Regions from separate parts of the Homo sapiens genome. Here all the other regions are linked to region 1. Evidence: fine-mapped expression QTL. A gene starts in region 1. Each other region holds a variant in brackets. All regions are shown on one strand. Distances are from middle to middle. Region 1 holds the start of GDAP2 (ganglioside induced differentiation associated protein 2). Region 2 overlaps GDAP2 (ganglioside induced differentiation associated protein 2). Region 3 overlaps WDR3 (WD repeat domain 3).

Region 1 (10,443 bases):
CACAATTACACAGTGAGGCAGAGACAGTATGGTTCGATGTGAGAATTTGGACTCTGTTATCATAGGGTCTGAGTTTGGATCCAGGACCATCATCTAATAGTTTTGTTATCTTTGACTCTGAACCAGTTTTTTAATTTCTAAAATAAGGGTAATTCTCCTAAGATTATTGTGAGCATTCAATGAGATAACTGGTGTCAAAACTGCATAGGAGAACAATTACCTTAACTTCCCTCCAACTCAAAATCATTCACTGTTTCCAACTTCCAAGTGACGATTTGAGGGTATATTCCACACGTTTAAGCCCACCAAATCACTTTAATTTAATCAATTTCCTTCATTTGACCATTTCTCCTCTTAAGAGAGTGTTACAACATAAATTCTCCTTTTACAATTACATCTTGGCTTTTTCCTTCCTCTCAATCCTCCTGTTCTCAAAAAGGTTTTCCTCCTTTATTTCTTCTACTTCATTTCTTCTTCAGAATACTAAACTCCTTTTTACCACTTGACTTTTTAAGAGTAATTTGTTTTGTAGCTCTACTTCCTCTTCGTACATTTGCCCAACCTACTGCAGTTTTGCTTCCGCTCTACAGCTATACGAAAACTACTCTATTCAACAATAACTTCCCAAATGTCAAATCCAAGAATTAATCCAATTTTATCCACATTTATTACTGATCATTTCCTCCTCAAAACTCTATTATCTTCTTTGACATTATACCCTGGTGGTTCTCCTATATCCCTGATCATACCTGGTCAGTAGAGTTTGTTGGATCCTTTTCCTAGCTTTTAAGTAATTGTGACCCACAAGATATTGGATGTTAAATAAGTAAAAGTAATGCTCATAGCTCTTATTGTAGGACAAAATTTAATGGCATTTTATGAAGTGTCACAGTATTTAACAGAGGTTGAATTCTTTTTCAACTCCATCTCTAAACAGAATTGATGTTTCTCACCAAAAAGAGGTTTGAATCTCTCCTTCCCCTAAACACATATACACCTTAGTAATACATACAGTAAATGGAGCCACAAACCCAAGCTAGGCAGAAAAACCTGATCCCTGAGAGAACAGTGGTTTTTAACATTCTCAAGGTCACAGGCCCCTTTGAGAATCACATGAAAGATACAGATCCTTTCACTCCCCAGAATATTTGTATATGAGCTCATACAAGTAGATTTGTAAATAAATTTGAATTAGAATCTCAGTGATAGAATGCAAACAGATTGCTTAAGTGACAAAGGGAGGAGGAGAAGGCTCCTACACCCAGTAATCTATAGCCACAGCCAGAATTTTTGCTAACATTAAAGGAGAGCAAGACTGTCCACTGAAAATCAGTTGATCAGCTCTGTACTTTTAATAAGTTCATAAACAAACACTAAGCCCTAGTTAAAAAAAAAAAGGCTCTTGAAGCAAGACATTAATTTCCAAGGATCAAAAAGTCTACATGGGACAAACAGAAGATTCCATAATGAATCAAATCTATTTCCATATCCATATGATCTTCAGTACTTTAGTGAAGAGGACCTAAAGACAAAGATAACCCACTATGTATCTTTTATAATTCAAATGGTGCAGTGTAAACAGCTCTCATTACACTGTAACTTGTTTTTTTTTTCCTCAAATCCTGTCATCTTTTAGTTTAAGAAGTCCTTTAAATACTGCTTAATATGAATAATTGGATTGGCTAGAGAGATCAGATTTTATTGTTCAAAACTGGGCAAAATTGGGCATAATACCTTGGATCACCATCTCAAAAAAAACTTTTTTTCTGGATAGAAAGAAAATGATATCATTTAAGAGAGAAAAATGGTAACTTTTAACCTGTTTACCTGTCTTTCAAAATGCTTACATTGATCAGACCAGCCTGGATAACAACAGTACAAAGAGAGCTGGTGCATGCACTTGACCGCCATTAATTACCGGGTTTACCATTCTTTATGACTTTGTATTTCAATATTTAACAGTTCAGAGTACATGAGGATATGTGTGCATACCATACTTAAGAATCATTTTATGCCACCATCCAACACCATACTTAAGAATCATTTTATGCCATCAGAAAGACATTTTTTAAAAAAGATTTTCAGATTGGAAGACTAACTGAAGTAGTCAAATATGTCAACAATAAATACAGTATAACAAGAACATTCCTAAGCTTGTCAATGGCTTGGGTCAAATTTAACATCATAATTCAAAAGCACCCAAAGAACATATCCTAACAGTAAATTAGTAGTACCCCTTCATATTAAATGAACTGCACTATGTTTTAATTGTAAATATTGATATATTAGGCATTTTGAAACTTAAATAAGGAAGTAGAGTTACATCCTTGAAACATTGTATAAGGAATTTTGTAAGATGCATTACCTTACCACTCACAGTTGCTCTGATACCAACTCTTATTAAAATCATTTTTTTCCATCTGTGGTTGTCCCATCCCATAATATTTAATAATATTAAGATAGTTTTTTAAGAAAAGGTAAAATCATGACTCATTCAAATATAAAACCAAACCCGTGTTCAAGATTTTATTTAACTCAAAATGGAACCAGGCAGAGAAGATAAAGAAAATCCCAGAATTAGACACCTTAGAGCAGGAATATTGAAATAAATGTGCAAAAGGAGGCAAAACTTCCACTGAATCTCTGAGAGAATTCGCATGTCTTGACAATAATTATTTAGCATTGATGTCACTTACCTAGTTTACGTAACTGAAAAATAGCTTTTTTAGAATTAGTTATTCCAAGGGGTGTTAAGATAGAATCTAAACTATGTAGTTTTCCATTGAAGCACACACTTCTCCCCATAATAATATAATGCACAGCACCTGTCAGGGATATTAACCATACATACCCACTCAAATGCTCCCTTTCCCACCAAGCTTATTAAAATAATAGTTTGTGGCCACAATTTCTTCCCTTCTCATTTATCCAATACACAGCAATCTTGTTTCAAAACTCCTATGCTGCTACAGCTGTCCACAGTCTCATCATACGCATTCTTTGCTATTGCAATTTTCTTGAATATGGAAGATTAGCTGAACATGCATTAAGCTCAGGAAACTCTAAAGAAAATCAGATAATGTAGACAAAAGTCTAATTTCTAGGCTGGCTGCAGATACCTTGTTCAAGAAGCGCCGGCAGGATCTTCTTTTGTACAGCTATGTTAGCTTTAATTTTGCACAGCTCTAGACATCAGAACTCATTTCTAAACACTTCTATGCAGCTCAAGAATAAAAGTAGCAGAAATGCAAGAGAGAAAAGCTAATTCCCACTTGGTGAAAGAGCACTTAAGTCTCAGTGAGCAAACAAGGAGGAGTCAGCCTTGGTCACTTCCCCCTCAAGCGGCCAGAGAGCGGAAACACAAAGCCAGGCCAGTGTCACTCCAGGGATTGCGGGAACCTAGACAACGCACCATCCTGGGCTCAGCGTCTACCCACCCCTCACCCGAGGTGCTCTCGGTTCCGTAGAATGTCCAGTCCACAGGAACGGCAACACGGACTTGTCTTTGGGACTACAACCAGCAAGAGCTCCCGCCTGCCCCATTTCACCTGCACCCTAGGGCGCCCGCCTCCTTGGCTACAGCACCACTGTTCCTAGTGCCCGCCGACTGCCCACCCTTTCACTTCTCGTAGAGACGGCGTCCCCGACAACGCCTCGGGAAAGAACCTAACCAACATGCGAGGAAGTGGCGCCAGGCTCGTTCTTCAAGAGAAGTGACAGAACTAACCCTCAGCCTGCAATCCTGACCAGGGCCGAGTCCCGAGCGCCTCGGACCGCGCCCCCGGCCCTCTCCGCCCCGCCTTCCCTCCCGGCCTCAGTCCCTCCTCTCACAGCACTCTGGTGGTCCCATCCGGGCGGCGGGCGGCACGGATCAGGCTCCTGGTAGAAGGCGGCCGAGCGACATCTCCGGCGACCCTCAGCAGGAGCGCGCCGAGTACGGCGAGTCAAAGTCCCAGGAGACTGGAGTGACCAGCTGCAAATGCTCTGGGCTGCGAAACACCGGCTTCCGCTCCTGGCCAGAGCTCACCAATCAGCGCCCGGCTTTCTCCGTCATTTCCTCCTAGAAGGCAAAGGGAACCTCTGGCGGAAGAGGCTTCCGGAACGGACCCGGAAGGGGCAGGTCTTGTGGGCGGGTCCAATCGGCTGGGAGCCTCGTGGAGGCTGAGGTGAGTCCTGGAGGTGCGTGGTTGGGGCGGAGAGCATTATCTGCGGCTCCGATTTTGCAGATTCTGGCTGAGGCGTTCGTGATGTCAGCAGCAGCCGAGACGGGCGTGTTAAAGGCCGGTTGCTAGGGCTGGGGGAACTCAGGTAACTACGGGCGTCCCCACAGCAGTACTTGGAAGCCCCTCAGCTACTCGGCGCGGTTGCGGGTGCTGAGCAGAGCTGCCTGACCGTGCGTGTGCACGGGCTGGCCTGAGGATGATATGACCGTGTGTTCGGTGTGTGGAACCCTCCGTCACCCTCCCCTGACCGAAGACTCGTTTAGGAATGTGTGGCAGGTCTGTTGCCACGGTCCAGGCCTTCAGTGCATCTTGGAAACATCGTTTTGGGGGCTGTAGGTTAGGAAGCGGAGATCATGGGGTCTCGGAAGAAGGTTTGGTCGTGAACTGTCAGAAAGGAGGCGAAAGCTGTGCACGTGGAACAAAGTGAACAGTGCAAGTTGTATGGGAGGTAGTTTAAATATCGAGGCGATGAAAAAAGGCTGCTAGAATTGGGCTTACTCGAAAGGAAGTGGGCCTCAGAAGATAATATTAGTTAAAAGAAGTAGAGGAGAACATGGATGTTATTCTAAGTAAAACGAATAATATGAAGAATACAAGGTCGCGGGACGAGGAAGGAAACTAGCCAGCCTGACAGGAAGGTTTATTCGAGAAATACGGGGGTTAGATAGGATGAGTTTTTGGAAACTGGCAAACGATTTAGCCTTTTCAAGGCTTTAGGATAGGGAAAGCTCATTTGAAAAGATTAGTCGGTAGTATTATGACGTTTAAATGAAAAGAGTGAAAAACATGGAGGCGGAGGTGCTAGGTGGAAAATCAGTGCAGTAATCCAGTGATAAAGAGCTGGAACTGAAAGTGCTGGAGAGAAAGGGATCCTGTTTCAGAGTAACAGTCAGGTGGAATTGACTAAAGAGAAAGAGGCAAAGAGAAGCAGTTTAGCATAGTGGTTAAAAGCAGAAATTTTGGAGTTAGACTGGCTGGATTGGGATCTGGCTTTGGCAATTAGCTGCTAAATGACTTTGAGTTAGCAATTTGCCATCTCTGGGTCTGAGTTCCTTGTCTGTAAAATAGAGATAGGAAGAGTGACTTCCCTTGTGGTGTTATTGTGGAGAATTTGTTTATTTATTTTTAGAGACAGAGTCTCACTGTCACCCAGGCTGGAGTGCAGTGGCGTGATCATAGCTCACTGCAACCTCGAACTTCTGGACTCAAGTGATCTTTCTGCCTCAGCCTCCCCGAGTGCGTCACCATGCCTGGTTAATTTTTTAAAAAATGTTTTGTAGAGATAGGTTCTTGCTGTGTTGCCTATGTTGGTCTGAAACTCTTGACTCCTAGGCCTTGGCCTCCCAAAGTGCTGGCATTACAGGCATGAGCCACCATACCAGGTCCTTATGGATAATTTTTTTATGCTCATATTTACAATGTGCTAGAGGCTTTTCTAAGTGCTTTGCATATGTTAGCTCGGTTTCATTAATTGCTGTATGTAATTAAACAATTGCATAATGTTATCAGTTACTATAGCGTAAGCACTCTCTAAATCTTGGCTGCTATAATAATATTTTTTTATTAATAATTCAAAGGTTATTAAATGGTTTTGAGCCTGAAGAGCTGGGAAAATTGTGTCTTAGTGTCAGAAGAAAAGAGAGGGGTACCAGAAGTAAGGTAGGCTTGGTTATAGACATGTTAAATGTGAAACTATAAGGTATTCAAGTGGAGATGTTCAGTAAATATTGGAAACTCTATAATTAGTATTCATGTAGGTGGAAAGGACTGGAAATAGACAGATGGGAGTCCCTGGACCTAGGCATGCTATATGAATTCTCCAAGGAAAACACTGTAGAAGGAGGTGGTAGATGGCCAAAGACAGACAAACATAAGGAACAACTACAGAGTCTGGAGGAATAAGAGGAATTGGGAAAGAATTAATCAAATGGCCTAGGCTAAGAGCATTATCACCATGTTAATATTATCTTTCCTTGATTTTAAATTGGCTTTATGTTGGTTCCTGTGAGAGAAGCAATGAGGCCAGTAAGTGATTATTACCAGAAAATATTATCAGAGAGTTGAGATTGAATTTTTTTTGTGTTAGACTAAAACAGCATTTGATAATTAGAAAGACCCTGTAGAGTTAAGCCAACCAACCAAAGAAACAAAAAACAATAGCAAAAAGAAACAGCTCCTCATAAAAGACTGTAACTTCTTTATTTTTGTGTGTTTTAAGTTGCATGGGTGTTTTTTGGGGATACTTTTTACTCTTCCATGTAAAGAACAGATGGGACTGATTTGTTATCTCCTTCATTCACCTCTTGTCCCTTTTATAAATAACCAGTGGATTATGGATTTTCAGTGAATTTAATAAAAGTGCAGAAATTATGGCATCTTTCCAAAAATAGTGTGCCAAGTTGCTCAACCATTTTCTATGCCAAGGGTAAGTGGCTGCTCTGATTTTGAAATGAAGGACAGACTTTCATGTACTAGTAGTTCTCAAAGTGTGGTCCAAGAACTGCAATAGCAGCATCACTTGGAAACTTGTTAGAAATGAAAAATTCTAGGCCCTACCTCAGACTTATGAAATCAGAAACAGGTGCTGGGAGAAGAGATGAGATGGTGTTTTCTAGCAATGTTTTCATAAGCCCTCCAGGTGATTTGGATGTATACTAGAGTTAGAGAACCACTGTACAAGAAGGTAAGTACCATGAGGTTAGGGATTTTGCCTTGTTAATAGTGTATTTCCAGTGTCTAGAATGGTGCCTGTCTAATTGGTAGGTTTTCAATAGATATTCATTGAAAAATATGTTCAGTCTCAGACTGCCAATCTCTGTGTAAAAGCTTTGATGCTGGTTTAATGGGCAGAAGTAAATCAGTTTAGCTGCATTGAGCCTATAATGTCAGATATGCATGAGGTGGGCATGACAACGTGACTAATTTGGAACTTGAGGAATGAGGGATTATATTGAGTCAACACTGAATAAAAAATGATGTCCAGGTATTTTAGGTCAATGATTCATTTAGAGTAAATAAAGATTAAGAAGTCACAAGTTACATGCTTTTAATGACATGATCAACAGTTGGTGTTGTTCTGGCGCAGTGGCTAACACCTGTAATCCCAGCACTTTGGGAGGCCGTGGCGGATGGATCACTTGAGGTGAGGCTTTCGAGACGAGCCTGGCCAATATGGTGAAACCCCATCTCTACTAAAAAAAAAAAAAAAAAAAAAATTAGCCGGGTATGGTGGCACATGCCTGTAGTCCCAGCTACTCGGGAGGCTGAGGCAGGAGAATCGCTTGAACCTAGGAGGTGGAGTCAGCTGTGAGCCAGGATCCCACCACTGCACTCCAGCCTGGGCAACAGAGTGAGACTCTGTCTCAAAAACAAAAAAACAGTTGGTGTTTACTAACCTAGTAGAACCAAGGCACCCAAGGAGCTGAGTTTTCTTTGTTTATATGCACAGATTGCTTCACCTGTGGTATCAGACATCACAACATGGGGCTCACCAAGCAGTACCTACGCTATGTTGCTAGTGCGGTCTTTGGCGTTATCGGCAGCCAAAAAGGTAATATTGTCTTTGTGACACTTCGTGGTGAGAAAGGACGTTATGTGGCAGTACCAGCTTGTGAACACGTTTTCATCTGGGACTTAAGGAAAGGAGAGAAGGTGAGCCTAAAATGACCAGTTTGATACTGATTTATTGGTATTTGAGGATGGAGAGGTAGTAGAAGTGGGGGGGCTCTGATTTATTTATCATGAGTTTTTTTGTGTCTGTGCCCTTAGAAGAAAAATCTTTTTCCTTTAGGTCTAGCTAGCCAAGCATCAAGTTCCTTTGTGTTCTTCGCCACTGAATTCTGAAAACCACAATGAAATAGGAGCTTATTTCTTAGATGTCTATTTGTTGGAATATTTACAGGTCATTATTTGCAGTAATTATTTATTCCTGATGTATTTTTTCTCTACCAATTCTATTTTTCAAGCTCGACTTATGCTTATAGCTGGTTATAAAATATTAGGCATGTAAAAGGAAGGTTAGTCTATTTTGGCAGAATCTTTTTCTAATATGGATAATGCCCAAGTGTTGTTAAAGTAGACTTTGATACTTTGTGTGACTGAATTCCCTAAGCCTACCACTTTTGCCAAACCAAATATAGGCATTTTGATATTGTCCATTCATTTTGTGATTCCCAAGAGGTTAGTACTTTGATTCTTGTTGCCACCAAGAGTCCTTTGTGGTTAAAACCACTGCAGTACTCTGTTGCCACACAGATTATTTTCTTATAAAATGGGTCTCAGTTAAAGGAATTTATAAACCTTTATTGAAAATCACGTAGTGTTGTTCTAGGGTTAAGAATTAGATTAAAGGGATTAAATTTATTTTATTGCCTAGGGAGTTTTTATATGTATTACAACAACGTAGGGCTTTGGAGAAAATAATTAAGCCTTTTCTTAAATGTTTCATTGCCTAGTACAAATACTAATTTCTATATTAAAAAACTTGAAATGGATTGTGGAGTTTCATTTTTATTCATAAGAGTAATTTGGAATTATTGGTGCTCTTAATTTTACTGTGCCTGAGTATTCCTATGCTTTTCCCTTGAGTTCATGCTTAACTCTTCTACATTGTTTTTAATTTTTATGATTTCAGATTCTTATCCTTCAGGGGCTTAAACAAGAAGTTACTTGCTTATGCCCCTCCCCAGATGGGCTACACTTAGCTGTTGGGTATGAGGATGGGTCGATCCGAATCTTCAGTCTCCTGAGTGGGGAAGGAAATGTGACCTTCAATGGTCACAAAGCAGCTATCACTACCTTGAAGTATGATCAGCTAGGAGGCAGACTGGCATCTGGGTCCAAGGTGAGCCTTTGAATCAGCCCAGGCTTTGATCTATTAAAGGAATGTAAGGCTTATGCTGAAGCAAGTTGTTGACAAAAATTGTCAGGTAAAACAATGGGCTGTCAATATACAAAGTAGTATAATGATAGAGTGAAGAGGATGGGTGTGAATTGGGTGGTTCATTTTGTTTCCTTTTGTTCATTTTGTCATATTTTCTGATAAAAGCCTCTTAAGTGTAGGAATAAGATGAAGAGAGCCATGATAACTCTTATTGTGGAAGTGCTACGCAAAACAGTAAAATAAGGAAAGAAAACAAAGACTGGAAAAGAAGAGACAAAATAATTATTTGCCATTGACTTCTGTAAAGTCAGTAGAATTTCCTGTATCTCACAAGTCATGAGTTAGAAAATATAAAAGATTCCATTCACAACAGATTAAGTAACAGACATAAAAATACCATGAAACTTTACTGAAGAATGGAATAGAAGACTTTTATAGAGATATAATCCATGTTCTTGAATGGGAAGACAAGGTATTGAAAAGATGGTAGTGTTTTCTAATTGATTTATATAGCTAAAGCTATGTTTAGACATATGTTTATATAGATACAGATATATTTAAATAGATATCTTAAAGGTTTTAGTTGTTACTTAGAACTTGACCTAATATGGAAAAGCAAAGGAATTGGAAACACTAAAATTTGGGAAGAAAAGAATAATAAAACAGGGGTTTTAGATATTAAAATGTCATATAAACCCATAATTTAAGAAGTATCATATTGATACTTCAATGCAAGTACCAATGCAAAATAGATTATTGCAACCAAATGGAAATCTCAGAAACACATCCATGATTACATTCCTAATTAGTATATTTTAAAGACGACATTTTAATAAGTAGAAAAATGATAGATTACTTATAAAACAGTCCTTAGACAATTGGCTATTTGAGCGAAATTTTTAAATTAAAGCTTTACCTCATGCTATATACCAAAATGAAACAAAGATTAAAGACTTAACTATTAAAAAATAGCATTTTAAAGTAAACTAGAAAATATGTAAGTAAATATCCGATAGCAAGGTAGAAAAGGACTTTATTAGCAAAGAAATAAATTAAAAAAGGAAACTGTTGGTAGATTGGAATACTTGAAACATTTGTACATTAAAAACAAGTCAGAGGACACTGAAAAAGTTAAAATATTTAATATTTTCAATATAAAAAGAAAGGATTAGTATCATTCATCTATTAATAACTTACAGTCAAATAAGAGATGACACTCTAAGAATGATAGACAAAAGAAAGTCATGAATTGGCAATTCAAAAGAGATACTTTATGGCCAATAATCACCATAAAGCATGTAAAATATTTCTCATTTGTATTCATAAAAAATGTAAATT
Region 2 (10,443 bases), 51 kb before region 1:
GTCCTTGTGGTAATAAGTTCTCACTCTATTTGTTCCTATGAAAGCTTGTTGTTAAAAAGGGCCTGGCATGCCCCTTCCTTCTCTCTCTTGCTTTCTCTTTTGCCATGTGATCTCTACACCCACCAGCTCCCCTTACCCTTCGACCATGAGTAGAAGCAGCCTGAGTCCCTCACCTGAAGTAGATGCTGGTGTGATGCTTCTTGTACAGCCTGCAGAAATGTGAGCCAAATAAACCTCTTTTCTTCATAAATTACCCAGCCTCAGGTATTCCTTTATGGCCACATAAAAATGGATGAAGGCAGAAAATTGGTACTGAGGGGTGGGGTGTTGCTATAAAGAGACCTGAAAATGTGGAAGCAGCTTTGGAACTGGGTAATGGGCAGAGGCTAGAAGAGTCTGCAAGGATCAGAAGACAACAGAAAGACTTAGGGAAAGTTTGAAACTTCTTAGAGATTGGTTAAGTGGTTGTGACCAAAATGCTGATAGAAATACAGACAGTAAAGGCCATGCTGATAAGGTCTCAGATGGAAGTGGGGAACTTAGGAATTAGAGCAAAGGTCATCCTTGTTACACCCTAGCAAAGAACTTAGCTGCACTGTGTCCATCCCCTAGGGTTTTATGGAAGGCCAAACAATACTGGTACCCTACGGTATCTGCTGGAGGAAATTTCTAAGCAGTAAAGCATTCAAGAAGTGGTGTGGCTGCTTTTAACAGCTTATAACCAGATATGAGAGCAAAGAAATGACAAAAAGTTGGAATTTATAATTAAAAAGGACACAGAACATAAAATTTTAGAAACTCAGCCTAGGCATGTGGTAGAGAAGGAAAGAACATTTTCAAGAGAGGAATCTAGGGGTGCTGTGGAGCAACCACTTGCTAGAGAGATTAGCAAGGATAAATCTTTGAGGTAGCTCCTCGCATCACAGACCCAGAGGACTAGGAAGACAGAATGGTTTGGGAGCGACAAGGCTTTAACACTTCAGGATGCTGCTCTCTGCATCCCAGCCCCTCTGGTTCCAGCGATGGCTCAAAGGGTCCCAGGTACTGCTCAGGCAACAGCTCTGGAGGGTGCAAGCTATAAGCTTTGGTGGCTTCCATGTGGTGTTAAGTCTGCAGGCATGCAGCATGCAAGAGTGGTGGAGGCTTGGCAGCTTGGAACTAGATTTCAGAGGATACATCAGAAAGCCTGGGTTCCCAGATAGAAGTCTGCTCCAGTGGTGGAGCACCTCCAGGCAGTCCTCACTGGGGCACTGCCTAGTGGAGCTGTGGGGTTGGGTTGCTCCCGTCCAGACCCAGAATTTCAGCCTGGAAAAACCTCTAGCATTCAGCTTCAACCTGTGAGAGCAAGCCATGTGGGTGGCAACCAGCAAAGCCATGGGGGTGGGGGTGCCCAAGGCCTTGGGAGCCCACCCCTTGTACCAGTGTGCCCAGTATGCAGAACATAAAGCCAAAGGAGATTATTTTGGAGATTTAAGATTTAGTGTCTGCCCTGATAGGTTTTGGACTTATAAGGGGCCAGTTACCCCTTTCTTTTGGCCTGTTCCTCTTATTCCTCCCTTTTGGAATGGGAATGTTTACCCAGTGCCTGTACAACCATTATATCTTGGAAGCAAATAATTTGATTTTGAGTTTACAGATTTACAGCTGTGAGGAACTTGCCTTGAGTCTCCAGATGAGACTTTGGATTTCTGAGTTGGTGCTGGAACAAGGTAAAACTTTTGGGGACTGCTGGGATGGAATGATTGTATTTTGCATGAGGGAAGAACATGAGGTTTGGGTGGCTAGGGGCAAAATGCTACATTTTGGATATTTGACCCTCTAAACCTCATGTTAAAACCTGATCCCCAGTGTTGGAGGTGGGGTCTAATGTGAGGTGTTTGAGTCATGGGGTGGGGCAGATCTCTCATAAATGGCTTGGTGCTGTCCTTGTGGTAATAAGTAAGTCCTTGCTCTATTAGTTCCTGTGAAAGCTGGTTGTTAAAAAGAGCCTGGCACCTCCCTTCCCTCTCTCTTGCTTCCCTTCCCACCATGAGATCCCTGCACATACTGGTTTCCCTTCCCCTTCTGCCGTGAGTGGAAGCAGCCTGAGTCCCTCACCAGAAGCAGATGCTGGTGCCCTGCTTCTCATACAGCCTGCAGAACCATGAACCAAATAAATCTATTCTTTATACTTAGCCTCAGGTATTCCCTTACAGCAACAAAGAAATGGACTAAGAAACCCTCTTTTGTTTCTTCCCCATTTTTATGCCTCTCTTTGATCTAACATCTCAATTTTAGAAAGCTCTAGCATAGGTACAAAGAGATGATCCAATGAGCCAAGTGTTAGATTATAAGTTAGTCTACTTAATTTTGATTAATTACATTATGCTTGTATTTATACAAAAATAAAACAGCCAAAATACACAACCAAACAAAACAAAAAACAAAACCAAGCTTGAGTGTGGTGGAGCTATACTTAATATTTAATGAAAGCCTGCTTTATAGGCCCTTAAGTATATAGAAAATGCTTTGGCTTAAAATACAGTCCTTTAGGTTTCCTAATCAAACACCCAACTTATATATTTCTATCCCAGAAAATAAATGATAAATCCAGATACTAGCTATGAATTGTCTTCAAAATTTTGAGTGTAAAAATGTTGCTTAGTGCCTTTCACATTTTCTGCTATCCATTTTTTTAAGCATTAAGATGAGTGATGTAGAGTTCAAAGGAAAAACACTAAGATCATTTTCTACTCCAGCAATCTGCAGTAAATACAAACTAATGTACTCTTTTCTCTTTCCTATATTCAACAATTTTTGTATCTATGATCCAGCTGCTCCAGTTACAAATCCTCTCTGTATAACAGCCAAATATGAAATTTTATTAGCCATTAGATCACATTATACACTTTACTCTGCACATAAGGGGAAAAAAATTATAGCTAAAGTTAGAGAAATGTTAGAGAGAAATTGTGTTGCAGAATTTTTATTTTGCTGTATAAACACTGCACAATAATTAGGGAAGAATAATTCATTTCAAACTTAATATAACTTTCAAATCTATCCCCTGGTTCATACAATATAAAGATAAGCAATCAGCAACAGTTAAACAATCAGCTTGATGAGCTTTTGGCCAAGTGTGTTACTTTTTTTTTTTCAAAAATTACTAAGGTGATATCATGAATAAACACAATAGAATAAATTGATGAAATTCACGAGTAGTCCTGTGACTAGTGCTTATGTAACAGATCCATAAACGCATCTATAAATAACAACAATAATATTATCAGATGATGCTCTTAAAAACATTATACAACCTTTTAGATAAATGAAACTTTTAGCAGGGTAAAGACTACTGAGATAGGCCACATGATTTGCAATTAATTCTAAAAGTGATCACCAATAAATTCTTCTGGCTCTGTGTAGATGGAAAGCCATTCAATCTTAAGAAAATTAGGCAGAGGTATCTGTTTTAAATATGGTAGAAAACTTACAATACAAACGAAAATTGGTTCTGAACTCACAGCAGAGAGATCTCCCACTGAAACGTTTATCTGGAGAAAATGCCTCTCTTGGGACAAATCCTTTTCCTAAAGTTATCATAGGGAAAGTATGTTAAATGATATTACCAAGTTTATTAAGACTCACTAATTTACATTAATATCTGGTAATGACAGGATGTTGTGCTCGTAAGTGCTGCTCTATAGAACAGTTAATATACCATACCAGGTGAGGGAGAACTTCTGGTACTTCTTACCCTGGCATCATATTCAAGGACAAAAGGAGGAAAGTCAATCTGTTCTGGTGATATGGCAGAAAACAGCTGGTGGAGGCTGTCCACATGGTGGATTTTGTCCTTCAGTCCTGAGACAGAAAAGGTGGTAAAAAACCATGTTGACACCTGATTAATAGAAGAGAAAAAATAATTTAAGCTAGTTGCCATAGTTAGAAACATAAACACAATTTGGAAAATTTATAGTAGATAAAAACTATATTTCAAAGTCTTAAAATAACTAGTGTTTTCAAAGCGCAATCTGAATTTTGCAATCATCAGTTTAGTTGATTATTAATAACATTAAAAAGAAGAAACGAGGATAACACTGACTAGAGACTATAAGAAGAATGAGTTTTGTTTCATGAAGCTTTTGTTTCCATTACATGTATATAAGTTCCCATGCGTGTAGTGTGTTAGTGCTGTACTACATGCTTCTTACTGTGGGTTGTAGTCAAAACCGCTGCATTATTTGGTAGAATAATTGGTGTTCCAGTCTTCTGAAAATGGTTAATATCTCCAAATCTCACACTGTGAATTTTTCAAATGAGACTGAAAAGAAAATTTGTGCCAATATTTGGGACTCATATATTTTCAGTTGATGCTTGGCATGAATTTCTTTCTCGAAGTCCATCAAAGTGAATCACTTGTAGATGTGGTGCCATCTTTGCTCATTTCACTTGACAACATGCAATCCCTCTCTAAAAGCTAGTCTGCAAAATTTGTTGGTTCCCAAAAAAAGGATAAAAAATTCTTGATACCAAACAATACTGACATAAACTAGGTAATGGCTTGAATTTAAAAATTACTGTTTATCTATCTAAATTGGCAATCACAAATTAGTCCATGTTTATCAACATACTATACAATAGTCCTATGAGGCAGGTATGATATTGTTGCTATCCCCATTTTACTTACAGAAGAAGGTAACGTATGCAGGAAATAGCAAACTTTTTTGAAAAGGACCATTATAGTAAATATTGCAGGCTTCTTATAATAACATTATCAGAAAATCGTTCACAAGGCATGCCTGAAGGTTCTTGGAGCAGTGCAATATTGGAGGCAGGACAACATGAAAATTAATTAGGAGGCTGCTGTGTCATTTCAAGTAAAAGCTGATAGTGGGATGAACTAATGTAGAGGCAGTGGGAATAAAGACACAGACATAAATTTGAGCAATTGTAAACACACAGAACTGATGCAATGTGCTAGGAGATGAGGTACAGAAAGTGCTCCAGAATGCCTCTCTGGTTTCTGGCTTAGGCACTTGGGTAGGCAGAAGTCCCATTTGCTAACACAGAAAACACAAATAGCAGTTCAGGAATAGGTGGAAGAGGAGTACATGAGGAGTTCTGTTTAAAAATGTTGAACTTCAGGGTCCTATAAGATGCCTAAGTAGAGATATCTAACCAGTAGTTCAATACCAAGGTCTAAAGCCTAAGAATGATAATGATGATGATGATGATGATGATAATGACAATGATGATGATAGTGTACATTTACTGAG[C/G]ACTTATTATACGTCAGGTAATGTTTTAAGTATTTTACATGTATTAACTCATTTCATCTTTCAATAACCCTAAAAGATAGGTACTATTATTTCCATTTTATAGGGGATAAAATAAAAGCAAACAAATTATACTACTTGCCTGAGATGATAAATTGATAACTGGTAGAGCTGGGATTAGAACCCAGGTAATCTGAATCTTGAAACCATGGTTCTAAACATTAGGCTTTATTGCCTCCCCAGATATATGTTTGAAGATTGCATATATTTTGGAGGGTCACTGAAGAAATGGGAATAAAAAAGGTATAGAATTAAAGATGAGGGTGGAGAAACACGGGAACACTAACACTCAAAGGATGCAAGCAGGAAGCCAGGTGCAGTGGCTCATGCCAGTAATCCCAGCACTTTGGGAGGCCAAAATGGGAGGATTACTTGAGGCCAAAAGTTTGAGACCAGCCTTGGCAACAGGGCAAGACCCCATCTCTATAAAAATACAAAATAAAAAAAATTAGCCAGACATGATGGTGCACGTCTGCAGTCCTAGCTATTCTGGAGGCCAAGGTGGGAGGACCCCTTGAGGCCAGGAGTTCTAGGTCACAGAGAGCTATAATCACACCACTGCACTCCAGTGTGGGTGACAGACTGAGACCCTGTCTCTAAAAAGAGATGAGAAGAGAGAGAGAGAGGCTGACAAATGAGACTGAGAAGCAGCAGCTAGAAGTAGGAGAGAAACCAGGCAAGGTAAGTTTCAAAGAAGCCAAGACAAACTGTGTCAAGGAGAAGTGATCAACTGTGTTTAAGGCTGCAGGGAATGCAGGTAACAGAGAGAGAGAAAAGTGTCTATTAGATTTAGTGACCCAGAAATTATGGATGATTTTGGTGTGAAAAGCTTCAGCTGGCAAAGCAGGATAACCACACTGGAGTAATTTAAAAGGTACATGAGAAATGGAGATGGTGAGCATAGAACAAAGATTATACTAAACAATTTTGGTCGTAAAGTGGAGGAGAGAAAAATAGATCTTAGCATTTTTAAAAGTTGGTAGATAATTTGGATCCAGCAAAGCGGGAGAGGAGAAAGACACTAACTGTTGAAGAGAGCTTCTTTAAGGAAATGGAAATACACTCTGTAGTTTACAGTCTGGGATTAAAATGCCTAGATTCAAATCCAGCCTTTGCTACTAACTGTTGGTTATCTTGGTTCCTTAATCTCTCTAAGCATCAATTCCCTTACCTGTATGGTGGGACAACTACTGCCACCTATTTCACAGGTATACTGCAAAGCTTAAGCAAGATAATTCATGGGAGGAACTGGCAGATAGCAAGTGCTCAGAAAACTTAAGCTAATGTCATTACTATGGGATTCACAGCACAGGGAAAGGGACTGTCCTTCATTAAGAAGGACATTAATGAAATGTGTTCATTAAGATGGAACACATTTTTGTGACAGAGAAAAAGGAGGCAATGATAAGAACAGCTAGCAAGTAGGTTTGGAGTGGGAAGGTAAAGATAAAGAGCTCCTTACTGACGGTTTCTTTGAGTGAAGAAAGCAGTACAATGGATTATTTCAAGTTTAGGTTTTGATGGGCAGGTGTGATGAAAGGGTAACAGGTCATAGGTTAATTTAGGCATTGACAAGAGTGGATGAAGTGATGAAATGTCAGTTTTTAGCTTGATAGAGAAGAAAATAAGGGCAAGATGATATTTTCAGAAAGTAAAAAGACCAAGAGACTAGATATCTTGATGAAGTCAAGATGTAGGCTTAGGTAGTGGGAATATAATTGTGAGCAAGACTGCTATATTCTAGCCCTCATGGATCTTGCTGGCTCATGTATAAGGAAGAAAATTAAACATGCAATTAAAATAAAAACATAACAATGATATAAGACTACAGAATCTTAAGGGGTTACAATGCTAGAACAGCTACTAGCTGCAGGATTGGTCAGGGAAGGATTTCTACAGAAAGTACAGCTGAGACCTGAAGGTCAAACAGGAGGTAGCCATGGGCAGAGGAGGGAAGTGTATTCTGTAACAACAGCATAAATGAGGCCCAGATGAACAAAGAGCACAAAAACAGGCAGGGACTGATGGGCTAACGGCTTATAAGGGTTGCCCACAAAGGCGCTGGAGTCACATACAACCAAAACATCAGGACCACAACTCAAGATCACTTAGAAACCAGGAAATTAGCAGTCACAATGGTGACAGCAACAATTAAGTTGCTGAGCTATTATCTTAATACTCTGGGCATGCAGTGCACATAAATTCTAGATTTAACCAAAGAGAAAAATACTGTACCTTTGAACGAAATGTGGGATGTACAAAATAAACAGCCTTCAAATTCCTCTTGTACCTGATCCAAAAATAAAATGACAAAAAAAATCAGTATAAGTTCATGCCTAAAACCAATTACTATTATAGACTATTAACTATTTGCCTGAGTATATAAATATATTCAGAGAAAAATAAAGACAGCTATAATTTACAGATTGAATTTTAGGTGAATGCCAAAAACAATTCAGAGAACATTCCATTTTTTAAAGTATCTCTTTTATAGGAGATATTAAGTGCTTCTGTCAGCTGCTATAGGTAGGACAAAGTTAAGTAAATTTGTATTTAAGAAACAAATTTATGGTGTGTCATTTTTTAATATGATGCTAGAATCTCTGGGATCAGAGTTAAACAGCAGCTAAACCACTTAAAATTATAGCAAAATTTTAAACTAAAAGTTTCAATGGTCATATTACAACAACAGATTGTTGTAACAATCTGTTATAATAACAATATTATAACAGAATTTGCTGTGCCCCAGAAATTGTAGAGGCCTTCTACTTAAATTCTCAAAACAATTCTATGAGCTCAGTACTATTATTGCAGCTATTTTTGCCCTCCCAAAGTCACCCAGTCATCAAGTGGCAGAGCCAGGAACTGAACCCAGGCAATACCACTCCAGATTCATTCTCCTATCCACTATTCCATCTGGCCTCTCTACGTGTGCCTGAGATTTTTTCAACAGTTCAGTAATCAACATTGGGTCACGTGAAGTTAATTGGAAAGGACGTCAGAGAAATAGTACAAACTATTTCACAGTTGAGGCCTGTTCCACGTTTAAGAACTGGTTAGTGGTAGAAGCAGAACTACATATATACAACCCACATTCAGAGTAAGCTAAAAAGGTGTCTATTGGCTAATGAAAGCTTTAATATTCCTAAATAAGATGAGATTTAATGGGAGAAGTAGGATAGCTGGAAATTTATGGTAACTTGCCTTCTTTGTACCCTAACTGTAAAATGGGCTTTTCAATGCAATCCACACAGACATTGTGATGCTACAAATAACAGAACAGCTAACAGGAGGGTTGAGTGCCACTTTTTATTCAGAAAAAAAAATAAGAAAAAATGTAAAACACTACATTTCATCTTTGCTATAGTGGGGTATCATGTATTTTCTGGTTAAAATTTCCATTATCATTTCAAGGGAAATATGCTTTAATGAAAATAATTTTCTAGCTCCAAGTCAGTAACCTGGGTTCAAGTCCAAATTCTGCATTTACTGTTGTGAGACTTTGGGCACATACTTCACCTTGCAGAATGTCAATATCTTCCATCTTTCAAACACAGATAATATCTCTCCTAACCAACTCCTGGGTTAAAGGATCAAAGTAAATAATGTTTATAAATGTATTTTGATAAGTATAATACATCATATAAATAGAAGGTAGTATTTTTGTTATTTTATCCACAAAGATTGGTAATGTAAAAAGTTTACATATGAATTTACTTTAATGCAAAATAAGTTTCAGTTACGGAGGGTCTCCTATGATTGAAGTATCTAATCTAGGTATGATAAAAGTCTTTGTTACATGAAATATCCTTTCACAGAATACAAAGCAATGTTTGCCACTGCTTAATATTAGAAAAGAAAGAAACTATTTCCCCTTCATAATTTGCAAAAATAACTAACTTGACATCAACAACATCGTAGAGTTTCTTCAGGAAGTCGGAGTCCAGGTGATTGTATTCGCTGGTCAGGGTGTGAAAATACACTAATACATACTCCTTCACAGCAATGTGATCCATTACATGAATGAAATATAAGAGAGCCTAAAAGATAAAAGGGGAATAAAGGTGAAGATCATTTTGAACAGTAGTCTATTTCACAGAGACCAAGAAAAAACAAAACAAAACAAAATAGAAAATTAACCTACTCTATGCCCTAGTCATCATAAATGGATAACTCAGAGTGATGAATATCCATTCTCTTTAAAAAGAGCTCCAGGAAAGTGAATCATCCCAGTGTTTAATAATTCTCATAAGTGCTACAGTACAATTCCTTTCTGTCTTATTCTAAGTGATAGAGGAGAACAATCAGTCTCTATCCTCTAAAACAATTCTTCATATACTGGAAAAAGTTCTTGGATCAACTACCAGGTTTTCTCTCTCCAGGACAATGATATCGAAATCATTAGAAGTAGAATTTCTATACTTTTAATCATTTTTGAAGTTTCCGCTTGAATTCAATCAAAGTCTTTGCAGTCTCTACTCAGAAATAGACTCATGGCCTGCACATAACCAAGAATTACTATAAAAAGATGTAATGAGTGGTGCCTCACATGATTCACGTTGAGAGCTAATTTTTTTAGATCTTTAGTGCTGATCTGAAGGAGGACATTGACAGCAGGTTTAATCAGTAGATGGCAATAGGTTGGGAAGCATTTCTAGAGCTCTGAAAGATTCAAATTTAATGTGACCCAGATTGGTTATAGAAATATTCCATTACAAAAATGATGAATTTAAGAGAAACACTAAAAACAAAACAGAGATACAATATAGGCAGGGCCAGTATGACCCAGTGGTTTAGCTGTAAACAATCACATAGAAAAAGCTAAGAGGTAACAACTGAAGGATTACTGTAAAACAAACTGTTTTCCAATTCCTCTTCAGATGAGTCCTTGACATTAACATGGTTGGATTAACATGGACTAGGATCCAACTGCTACTAGAGCAGATAGAGAAGGGCATTAAGAAAACACAGTATCTTTCCATTCATTACCTGCTTTGGTAACAATTATTATTATCACCATCTATCTCAATATTTTACAGGAAATGATACATCATGAATATCCAGAACCCCATGCAAGTACACACCAAAATCAAATGCAAAGATTTATGGTTTTATTTGTATTAATCAC
Region 3 (10,443 bases), 25 kb after region 1:
TTTTGTGAAACAAATGCCCTGGAATCTTTTCAGTGAGGAGATACAGAGATCTGACTGAGGCAGTAAGCTTCTGGGGGCTTCCTTGCCTCCACTATACTGCAGTATTCTTGGCAAGCACATGGAGGGTCTGTGTAGTGGACACAGGTACTCCTGCCAAGCTGTCTTTTGTGGGTTGTCTTTGAAAATACAGATATAAAGCAATTTAAAAATGTGTTTAAAGTTATATTTTAGACCTACATGTAATAAATTATACCCATATTTTATAGACAGACATTAATTATGTTTTTTTGATGTTTAGTTTTTTCTGTCACTGTATGGACACAAACTGCCTGTTATATGCATGGACATCTCTCATGTAAGTAGTTTAAATAGTGTCTCAGTAATATGTTGTCTTTTTTACAGCAGATACTTTCTTAATTCTGGCTTGATGTCTTCATCTTAGATTATTTGTTTTTATCATCATTCTGTTATATATCTTTCTCCAAAAACAGTCTCAAATTAATATATATTGTATCTTATATATATTACTTTAATGTTTTCAGAATAATTTTGCAAATATCATCTCAATCAATCCTTATAAATATTATCTCTTTCCCTCTTGTAGCTCTCCCAAATAGTACTTTATTGTTTAAAATACTATAATTGGTAGAGTACACTAAAATATGAAAGACTTTAAAAAGGCATTCCTTTTTATTCTGAAGGATAATGCTGCTGAGGAGCTCGGATTTATATTTGGATAGTTACGGTATTTTACACTATGTAGACTTTTGGTCTCTTGACCAAAATCATTTATTTCCCAATACCTAGTTTTGATTAGGAGTGGCAATGTATATTAAAAACAATGTCTATTCTGCAGAGTGAGACTCCGTCTCAAAAAAAAAAAAAAAGTCTATTCTGTGTGAAAGGAGTTGACCTCATAGCTGTCTGTGGTCAGTGCACTAACAAAGTTAAGTTACAATGTTAAATGTATTTCTTTTTTTTTTTTTTTTTATGTTGACAACCATTTGGACCACGCATTGAAATAGGAGAGATAAGAGAAATACTGATAGGGAATGTGGGCTACATAAACATTCTAGTAGAGTCTTTCTCAGCTTCTCTTCTGTTTCTTTCTCCCACTTTCTTTCCAAATCCCATGCCAGAGATTAGAAAATCTTTTTCCTATCTAACGAAGTAAATAGATAACCCTATGTCAAGGCACAGCACTGCCCTGTGACAGTACGAAAGTATTTAAGCCACAGAGTTCGTGCTTTTACTTAACAAGCTTTTTAAGTTCCTCTGTAGGTAAGAGCAAAGAATTCAGTGTTTTTAGTAGAGATGAAAATCAGTTTTTTGGCTTCATTTTAATGTGTTTGAAAGAAATGGGTTAAATATTCTGGTTAGCTTTTTATTCATATACGGAATTCAAAAATCAAGGTAGTGTTTTACTTTTATTTCTCATAGGATGGAGCACTCATAGCAACTGGCTCCGCTGATAGGAATGTGAAAATCTGGGGTTTGGACTTTGGGGACTGCCACAAGTCTCTCTTTGCACATGATGACAGGTATGTATAGTCTTTTCAAATGTCTCCCTTTGAGTCACCTGTAAGTTATCACTTTCCTTGAGCATCTGTGTCTATTTTTCAGTGTTCTCAGGCAGTGATACAAGTTCTAAAATATAGTCAGACACCCTAGAACTAGCTAGTCAAAAGCTATTTATGTGTGTAAAACTCTTTTTACTAACCTGGAATTTGATGACATTTTAATATTTCTGTCACTTTTCAGTGTGATGTACCTACAGTTTGTACCCAAGTCTCACCTCTTCTTCACTGCCGGAAAAGATCATAAGATTAAACAGTGGGATGCAGACAAATTTGAACACATACAGACTCTGGAGGTAACCACATGCCTTCTGTGCTTGCTTGGTACTTAAGAAATACTTTTAAGAATATTTACATTACCCACTAAGTAGTGGTCAATGAATGAGGTATTCTTTATTTTTTTTTTCTCCTCCAGGGTCATCACCAGGAAATATGGTGTTTGGCTGTAAGCCCCAGTGGAGACTATGTTGTATCATCGTCCCATGACAAATCTCTGAGACTTTGGGAGAGAACAAGGGAGCCTCTTATTCTTGAGGAAGAAAGGGAGATGGTAAGAACTTTAGGCTTGGTTACAAATATGCCAGTAGGTATCTGACAGGCTGTCCTAGTTGAAGTTTTCTGTCTAGTGCAGTTACACCTGATGCATTGCCAAGTCCAAGAACCTTCAGGAGATCTTTTCAAGACCATTGTCACCCATTTCAGAAGCTAGGCAGAGATAAAGATGCCATTAGGGTATTATGTTGTCAAAGGAGCAGCTTCTCGCTTCCTCATTTCTCTTCATATAGAGACCATGTTTTTTTCTCTCAAATTAATGTATATCTATCTCATGGCAGGAAAGAGAAGCAGAATATGAGGAGAGTGTGGCCAAAGAAGACCAACCAGCAGTAAGTAAATTTTGGGGACCTTGAGATTATGCCCCATATATAGTTATCTTATTGAAATTGACTATAATGTCCAGAATTTCTAATAGAATTAAAATTGAGGCTAGAAGTTGCAGGTATCACCAGCTGATAAAGAATCTGTGTAATTCTTTCTCTTCAACTGTATATCCTAATTTTGTGGTTCAAGTGATTGACCAAATTTGCTACTGAATAATTATTCTGTCAATTGAGACTTTAGGGAATTATTTTATTCACTGTAGCACAAAAATAAAAATTAGAAAATTTGGATATTCTCTTTTTAAACATTTGCAGGATGTTCTTACAATAATACATATGCTAAGTTCTGTTACTGGTAGCTGATAACACTGTTAGTATTTTCATAAAATAATAATAGCTGTTCTCATATGGATGTAAGATTAATTTATCAGCTCTTTAACTCAACAGTCAACAGTGTTATTCAAGGATTTCTTTGTTTCTGGCAGGTTCCAGGAGAGACTCAAGGTGACAGTTACTTTACTGGAAAGAAAACTATTGAAACAGTGAAAGCAGTAAGTTGATATAGAATGTGGTATCTCGTTTTTTAATAAGATCTCAACTTTTTAGTAAAAGTTTTATTCTGTATCAACCAGAAAGCCATTTTTTTGGCAAAAAGTTGATGAGATTTAAAGATGGGGATTATAACCTGTTTCCTTCTCTTGTAACCAAAGATGGGAGTAGTCCTGAATCTCTTTGATCAATATGTGCTCCTTTCAGGTGTTCCTGGGACCTGCCCTATTCAGAGTGTCTAGATATCATCCCACCTGAGTCCATGACACTCAGTCTCTTCCCTGTACATTAAAAAATAAGAAAACCAAAAATGTCTTTAAATGCTTTTTGGCACTCTATTCGCACGTCTTTATTAAACAGATTGAAGCTATTTCATTTGGCAAATTTCTGGTCAGTTCTTCCAGTTTCAGTGTCCTGGGATGATGGAGTATGTTGTGATGACTTCTTTCCTTTCTCATCCTCTGTAGGCTGAGAGGATTATGGAGGCTATTGAGTTGTACCGAGAAGAAACTGCAAAAATGAAGGAACACAAAGCCATTTGTAAAGCTGCAGGGAAAGAGGTAATAAGAGAGTACAGTAAGTTACAGTATCAATAAAGGGAATTCCCAAGGAGAAAAACCATTGTTTTGGGATTTATTAACTAAGATCAGGATATGCAATAAATGGAATAGAATCTTTCCAACTCACTATATTAGAAGAAATTGAGGAAGTGTGGGAAGAAGGGAACTTGGTCTTAATGAAAGCGAAGGAAAGGAAATTACAGATTGAGGTGATTATTGTCTTGAGTAGAAACCCACGTTCTATGTTGGTTTGGGAGGCAGGGTAACCATTTCAGATTTCTAGATAAAATACATTGTCCAAGCTCATTCATGAGTACTAT[A/G]GAAACTAACAGGTTTGATAATTCTTTTACACTCTGTCAGTTTTTTAGGGTCTCTTTTTTCCCTTTTCAAAATTATAAAATACAGTTACCACTCTGTCTATAACAAGTGCTACCTAAGTCTCAGTTTTTTTAATGACTTGATTTAATAATTTCTTCATAGGTTCCACTTCCCAGCAACCCCATCCTAATGGCTTATGGCAGTATCTCAGTGAGTAAAATGTCTAACGGTTTTCCTTTGTTTATTAAAAGGTTACTTACAAGGACAAGAAAGGAAGTAGAGGCATTATGATTTGGGGATGGATTATTGGGAATACTTTGTCTTCAAAAGTCTCTTTTGAATCTTGGCATTCTCTAGGATATTTTGTATTTCAAAAGGACCACTTTAGTGTGACTTCCCAAGCCAGCCTTTTTGGTTGGACTGGACTGGCATTCTTCTGTTTTCTAGTGCCTGTTTATGTTCAGTGTCCAAAGCCCTCTGAAGATTCTGTTAATCTAAATTAACTTTTGAATCAGCCTTCAGAAGGAAAGTTGACAGAAATCAGTCTGATGAGATAAAGAAGAGAGAGAGGGGAAGAGTGATGGGAGAATGTATGTTTATCTAGTAATCTCTAATTAGTATTTTATTGCATGTCTCATCACAGTAATTTTGTGAGTCAGGGTATCTTCACCTTATAGATAAGGAATCTGGCTTGACTTGTAGCATAGTTGGTAAGGGGCAGAGTTCAGTTGTCAACCCAGATCTGACTGACTCTAAACTCATGCAGATCTTGCCATTTTAGAATACTTTTTCTGAAGTAAGAAGGAGGGGTTCCTGTTTTATAGGAGATAGAAATTAGAGAACTTTAGTAGAAACCAACCAAGAGTATCACTAATGGTATTAATCCTTCCTTTATAGCCTTCAGCTTATGTATTAGAGATTTTTAAAGGGATCAAGTCGAGGTGAGTGAGTCCTTGCGCACAATTTTTGTAATCTGTCAGCAAACATTTATGAAGTGCTTATCTGAACGGGAAATAAATAGAAATTATAATTGATGGTTATCTTATAGGTTTAACTATATCAAAGTTTTGATGGAAAATAATTTATAATGTTCTTTTTGAAGTGCTAGAACTAGGAAGTTCCTTCTAAAGTATGAAGAGAGATGCTTTTAAGGACAAATAAAGGGGAGTGATTTATGTTGTAGGCGATGAAATAATATATAATTCAATTAGAAGCACCAATTGTTAATTTGTTTTATATTTTGGCTTCTTTTCTATGTACATACACAATTGGAATATTATATAAAGTTTTATATTCTGTTCTTTTTCACATATTTCCTGAACATTTGTTTGTTGTTCATATTCTTCAAAAAAAAAAAATCATTGGATTCAGAATTATTCCATTGTATGAATAATTACTCGATATTGCATTTGTTTCTCCTTTTTGGCTATTATCAGTGGCTTCACTGAATATGTTTACACATATATCTTTGTCATCATTATTGATTATTTTTCTTAAGAGTCCTAGCAGCCTAATAACTGACCAGTAGGCATAAGCTTTTAAAGTTTTATATTGCCAAATTACTTTCCAGGGTGATTATACTGATTTTTAGCAGGCTTTAAAAAATTTGTTGCCAGTGTGTGAGCCAAAAGGTAATATTTTATTATTTTCATTTCTTTTGACTATTAATGAAGTTAACATTTCAGCATATTTGTTGACCATTTGTATTTTGTCCTGTGAATTTTTAGTTACCTCTTTTTGCTCTTAAGTATTATTTTACTGGTTTTTAAAGAATTCTTGCTGGGCACAGTGGCTCATGTCTGTAATCCCAACATTTTGGGACACTTGAGACCAAAAGTTTGAGACCAGCCTGGGCACCATACTTTATTTTCTTTGTCATACATTTTTGCAATAATTGTTATATTATTTGTGATTTTCCTTTTGATTTTATTTATGAGTTTGAACTACTGAAGGCTATCATTTTCATAATGAACCACAATATCTACATATATATTCCTTACAAGAAACAACACTTGTCTTAGGATAAAGATGAAACTTCACTACAGGAATGTAAAAGAAAATTGATTAATGTGGAGGTTACAATACATTTCAAGATAGGAAGATTCTGTGTTTTAAAGATTTAACTTTTCCTAATTAATAGGTTTGTAATCCCATTTGATATCCTCTTAAGATTTTAAATTGGAATTGATGAAATAATAATACTTGAGCTAGTTCTAGAGGGAACTATTTTCCCAGATTAAAAGGCTACAAAATTAGCAAAATTAAAATAGTGTAGCATTGGTGTCAGGATCAATCATCATGTCAGGATCAGTCATCATAATAGACTCTAATGGACTCAATATATGGTAAAAGAATATCATATGAAGATGGAATATTCAACAAAAGGCTTTGGAGATATTGTTTATCTGGAAGGAAAAAAAGTTAGATTTTCCCATCATGCCATTGACCAAAATGCATTCCAAATAGATTAAGATATTAAATACAAAAAACAAAGAGAGTCATCTAGCTTACAGATGAATATTTAACTCTAGGCAAGATGTATCCAAGTATAAAATCAGTAGAAAAAATAATAAAGGGAAGGATTTAAAAATTGACCATGTTAACAACGTTAACAAATGTGGCATTTTTATATTTATTTTTTCTTTTTCAGTGAGCTGGAAGAATCTCTACTTGTGCTGCCTTTCTCTTATGTCCCAGACATTCTTAAACTCTTTAACGAATTCATTCAGCTGGGCTCTGATGTTGAACTTATATGCCGGTGCCTCTTCTTCCTCCTTAGGTAACATCCTTTTCCAAAGAATACCATGTCTGTTCAGCAGAACTGCTTCAGTAGTACCTTAACTGAAGCTGTCAACACTTTGGGATTAAGAAATAGTATGCCGAACTCGGTGGCTCACACCCGTAATCCCAGCACTTTGGGAGGCTGAGGTGGGTGGATTGCTTGAGCCCAGAAGTTTGCTACCAGCCCAAGCAATCAGTCTTGCCTTTAAAACAAGGATCATGATGACCCACCTCTTTAAGTAAGAAGTCATGGTAATACATTGCTCAGGAATGCTTACTCAGTCATAGGCCTCCATGTTACAATCTTAAGATAGCTCTGGTTCTAGTCAGTTTGCCAAAAGCCAATTATGATTGGCCAGTTTGCCTCATTTGTTGTTTCTTTTAAGCCAACCTTGTCCAGCCTGTGGCCCGCAGGCCACATGTGGCCCAGTATGGCTTTGAATGTGGCCCAACACAAATTTGTAAACTTTATTAAAACATTATGATTTTTTTGTGATTTCTTTGTTGTTGTTGTTCATCAGCTATCATTAGTGTATTTTATGTGTGGCCCGAGACGGTTCTTCCAGTGTGGCCCAGGGGAGCCAAAAGGATGGACATTCCTGTTTTAAAGTGTTTAGTGTAAGCTAACAGGTTTTGCTTTGTCCTTTACCAACATTTTAAGAAAGTCAGTTTATTTCTCTTGGTCTCTACAGGTGCAAATGGAAATGTAGGGGCATATATAGAGGTAAACTAAGGAACATAAAGCAAATATGTTCATTAGGCTATATTCTTACTTATGAAGATTCTGTTAATAGGTAGTTGAGAAGAATATATGCACAAAGGCTTGATATTCTTCTCATCTCTCACCCTCATTCTCAAGCGGTTACAGCAGAGAACAGGGATGGAGACAAATTGAACATTCCTTCAAATACTGTTATGAAGACAAAAACTGGTCAGCCAATGCCAAATAGTTAAACAGGTATATGTAGTGAACTGACCAAATAGGTATTTGGTGAATTGGCCTGGTTTTATGATTCTTAACCCTCCATTTCTTATACTCTATCCAGGATAGTAGCAAGAGAAGAAGAATAATATGTTCTGTTGCCATATTCATAATTTGGGGCAACTTGTAAAGACATAAGTTCATATTTAACCATGTTACTAACAATTTTTTTTTACTGCTATGGTATACGTGCTATTGAATTAGGGTTGCTGGTTCTACGAGTAACACTGTGAATACTTATAGCGTATCAGAGGCTTATGGATGGGTACTACCTGACAGGTATGGTAGGGTCATCAAGGATATCTTGGTACTCTAGGTCAGAGTTTGAATCTCACGAATGTCTCTTTTTTGCTGTGGCTTTATTAGAAGTATTAATGCATCTTTGTTAAGTTAGCATTTCTTAGAAGGCTCATTCTGTCTTTGAGTTTTCCTTAAAGTACCACTGTCAAAATCTGTAGCCACTGGCAGGTTGCTGGGCTGGAAGAAGAGCCTTTGCAAATGAGTTGAATGTGTCATAAGGTTTAGGACAGTATTTTTTAAGTTGTCATCAAATTGAACTGAATAGTAGAGAAAGAAACTTCTTTGGCTTTTTTTTTTTTTTTTGCTCGAAACATTTCTATAATGTATATTTTGTTGTTGCTTTGATATTGTGTCTGTTTACTGTTTCTAGAAGGGTTAAGTAGGGCTAGAACCTCTCTGCAACATGGCTGTGTTTTGTTTTTCTATCAGGATTCACTTTGGACAGATCACTAGCAATCAAATGCTTGTGCCAGTGATAGAAAAATTAAGGGAAACAACTATTTCAAAAGTCAGCCAAGTCCGGGTAAGTGTCTTTGTATAGAGATAAAATAATGAGGCAAATTCCTAGTGTGATTTAGAAATAGTATAGTATGCTGTGCTTTGTCTTTAGCAATACCCACCACCGATAAATCCATATTTGAGATAGTTTTTGTTAGAATTAGTAGGAATAGAAAAAACAAACAAGAAAAGTTCTTAATGAGGGAAAGATAAGTAACAACACCTGAAGCTTTGGTTACCCTAACTCTCATACGCTGCTATAATGAATTGAAGTGGGAGAAAATTTTTTAATATTTCTTGTATTGCACTCCAGGATGTTATCGGCTTCAATATGGCTGGTCTTGATTATCTCAAGAGGGAATGCGAGGCAAAAAGTGAAGTTATGTTTTTTGCTGATGCTACTAGCCACTTGGAAGAGAAGAAGAGGAAGAGGAAAAAGAGGGAGAAGTTGATTCTAACGTTGACTTAGAACTGAAATGTGGTATCTTTTTTTTTTTCAACTTTTTCCTTTAAAGGACTCCTAAACTAAGCACAGAAGAGTTGGCGTCATCTTAAAAATACCAAATAACAGAAGATCGCATTGCAGATGATATCAGGATGTGGTTTCCAGCTTTGCCTGAGGGAATTCCAACATGAGATTATGGGCTGGCTCCATTTCTTGGACTTAAAATGCATTATTAGTTTAAAAATCTTTCTGTGCTCTCAAAGCTTGAGCCTTGCAGCTCAAGCTTGTTGTTCCCTTTATATTCTAGCAGGGAATAAATAATTGTTTTAATTAGGTATTTGTTTCATTGGAGTTGAAATTAACATTTCAAAAGTTTTTCGTATTTTTTTATGGCAGATGATTTGTCATTTATTTATATTAGGTTTTACTGCCTATTGAGACAACCAGGTGCATAATTGATTGCCCTTTGGCCATAAAAATGCAGTGTCATGGATCTTAGAGCTAAAAAGGACTGTAAAAATTACCCAGAACAGCGTCCTCAGACTTAACCTTCTGCAAGTTATGTCTGTATATAAGAAGATTCTAATTGCTAACTGTTTATACTTTTCTGAATAAAATAGTTGTTTCTAATTAAAAAGTAGCCAAGCTAAGATGCCTGGCTGGGCTTCTGAGGAATTAATACACTCGTGTGTGTGTGTGTGTGTGTGTGTGTGTGTGTGTGTGTATGTGTATGTGTATGTACACATACATATATATAGTTGACACTTGAAAAATGCAGGTGGTAGGGGCACTGACCCACCCCTACGCCCCGCACAGTCAAAAATCTGCATATAACTTTTGATTCCCCAAAGTCTTAAGTACTAGTAGCCTGTTATTGACTGGGAGCCTGACTGATGTATTATATATATTGTATACTGTATTCTTAAAGTAAGCTAGAGAAAAGAAAATGTTACTTAGAAAATCATAAGGAAGAGAAAATATATTTACTGTGTTTATCAATACTATAAGTGTATGTCATCTGTTTATAAAATGAATTGTCTGTCTGGATTGGCAGGCAACCACAGCCGCAGACCTCAATCTGTGGTACTTATCAAGCATCAGCTTTTTCTTGTAATGTCATGACTTTTCTCTGCTTTTTGGGAGCACTGTGATATGCAGTTTACTGGGGCGATGAGTTGTTCATGCACAGGTGATTAGTGTCACAGCATTTTAAGTGCATACGCACAACACTTGAGCTCACTGCATAGCAACAGGAGGTGGCTGTGAAATTATTTCAGTAACATACTGTGTATTACAGTTCATTTTATGCAGCTATGATTTAATACTGCATCTTTACATTATTTTACATTTCTCCCAAAACTGTGAATTGCACCATGTATGATCTGTATTTGTGTGTGTTAATGTTGATAATAGATTTGCGTGTATTTTATGGCAGTAAATGATAAAATAGTCTAGTATCTACATATATTTTGTGCATTCATGATATAACTACTTTTTTCCTAATTTTTTTCATCTGAAACTTTTCTCATTGTTTCAGATCTCCAAAAATTTTTCC

What was found. PIP is the estimated chance that this variant, and not a neighbour inherited with it, causes the effect. A credible set is the group of variants that fine-mapping cannot tell apart.
Region 2: its variant is the best candidate, but not a certain one, in a credible set for the expression of GDAP2 in whole blood (INTERVAL, PIP 0.62).
Region 3: its variant is the best candidate, but not a certain one, in a credible set for the expression of GDAP2 in whole blood (INTERVAL, PIP 0.63).

Annotation. Positions count from the first base shown.
Region 1 is chr1:117,925,617-117,936,059 of GRCh38, forward strand. GDAP2 (ganglioside induced differentiation associated protein 2) reads right to left here and starts at 4,005. Exons shown (of 14, transcript NM_017686.4): 1 at 3,832-4,005. It overlaps WDR3 (WD repeat domain 3), which reads left to right and starts at 4,123. Exons shown (of 27, transcript NM_006784.3): 1 at 4,123-4,166; 2 at 7,672-7,874; 3 at 8,857-9,066. The coding sequence starts at 7,704. RefSeq lists enhancers at 3,930-4,224, 4,106-4,275.
Region 2 is chr1:117,874,273-117,884,715 of GRCh38, forward strand. GDAP2 (ganglioside induced differentiation associated protein 2) reads right to left here. Exons shown (of 14, transcript NM_017686.4): 11 at 9,216-9,355; 12 at 7,551-7,605; 13 at 3,737-3,880. Among named protein-coding and RNA genes, the nearest start is that of GDAP2, 50 kb to the right of the region's middle. The variant C/G (reference allele first, on the strand shown) is at 5,259.
Region 3 is chr1:117,950,536-117,960,978 of GRCh38, forward strand. It overlaps WDR3 (WD repeat domain 3), which reads left to right. Exons shown (of 27, transcript NM_006784.3): 16 at 299-355; 17 at 1,441-1,541; 18 at 1,762-1,873; 19 at 1,993-2,127; 20 at 2,411-2,461; 21 at 2,941-3,006; 22 at 3,472-3,564; 23 at 4,045-4,092; 24 at 4,780-4,823; 25 at 6,533-6,661; 26 at 8,375-8,468; 27 at 8,757-10,443. The coding sequence ends at 8,912. It overlaps SPAG17 (sperm associated antigen 17), which reads right to left. Exons shown (of 49, transcript NM_206996.4): 49 at 3,055-3,514. Among named protein-coding and RNA genes, the nearest start is that of WDR3, 26 kb to the left of the region's middle. The variant A/G (reference allele first, on the strand shown) is at 3,885.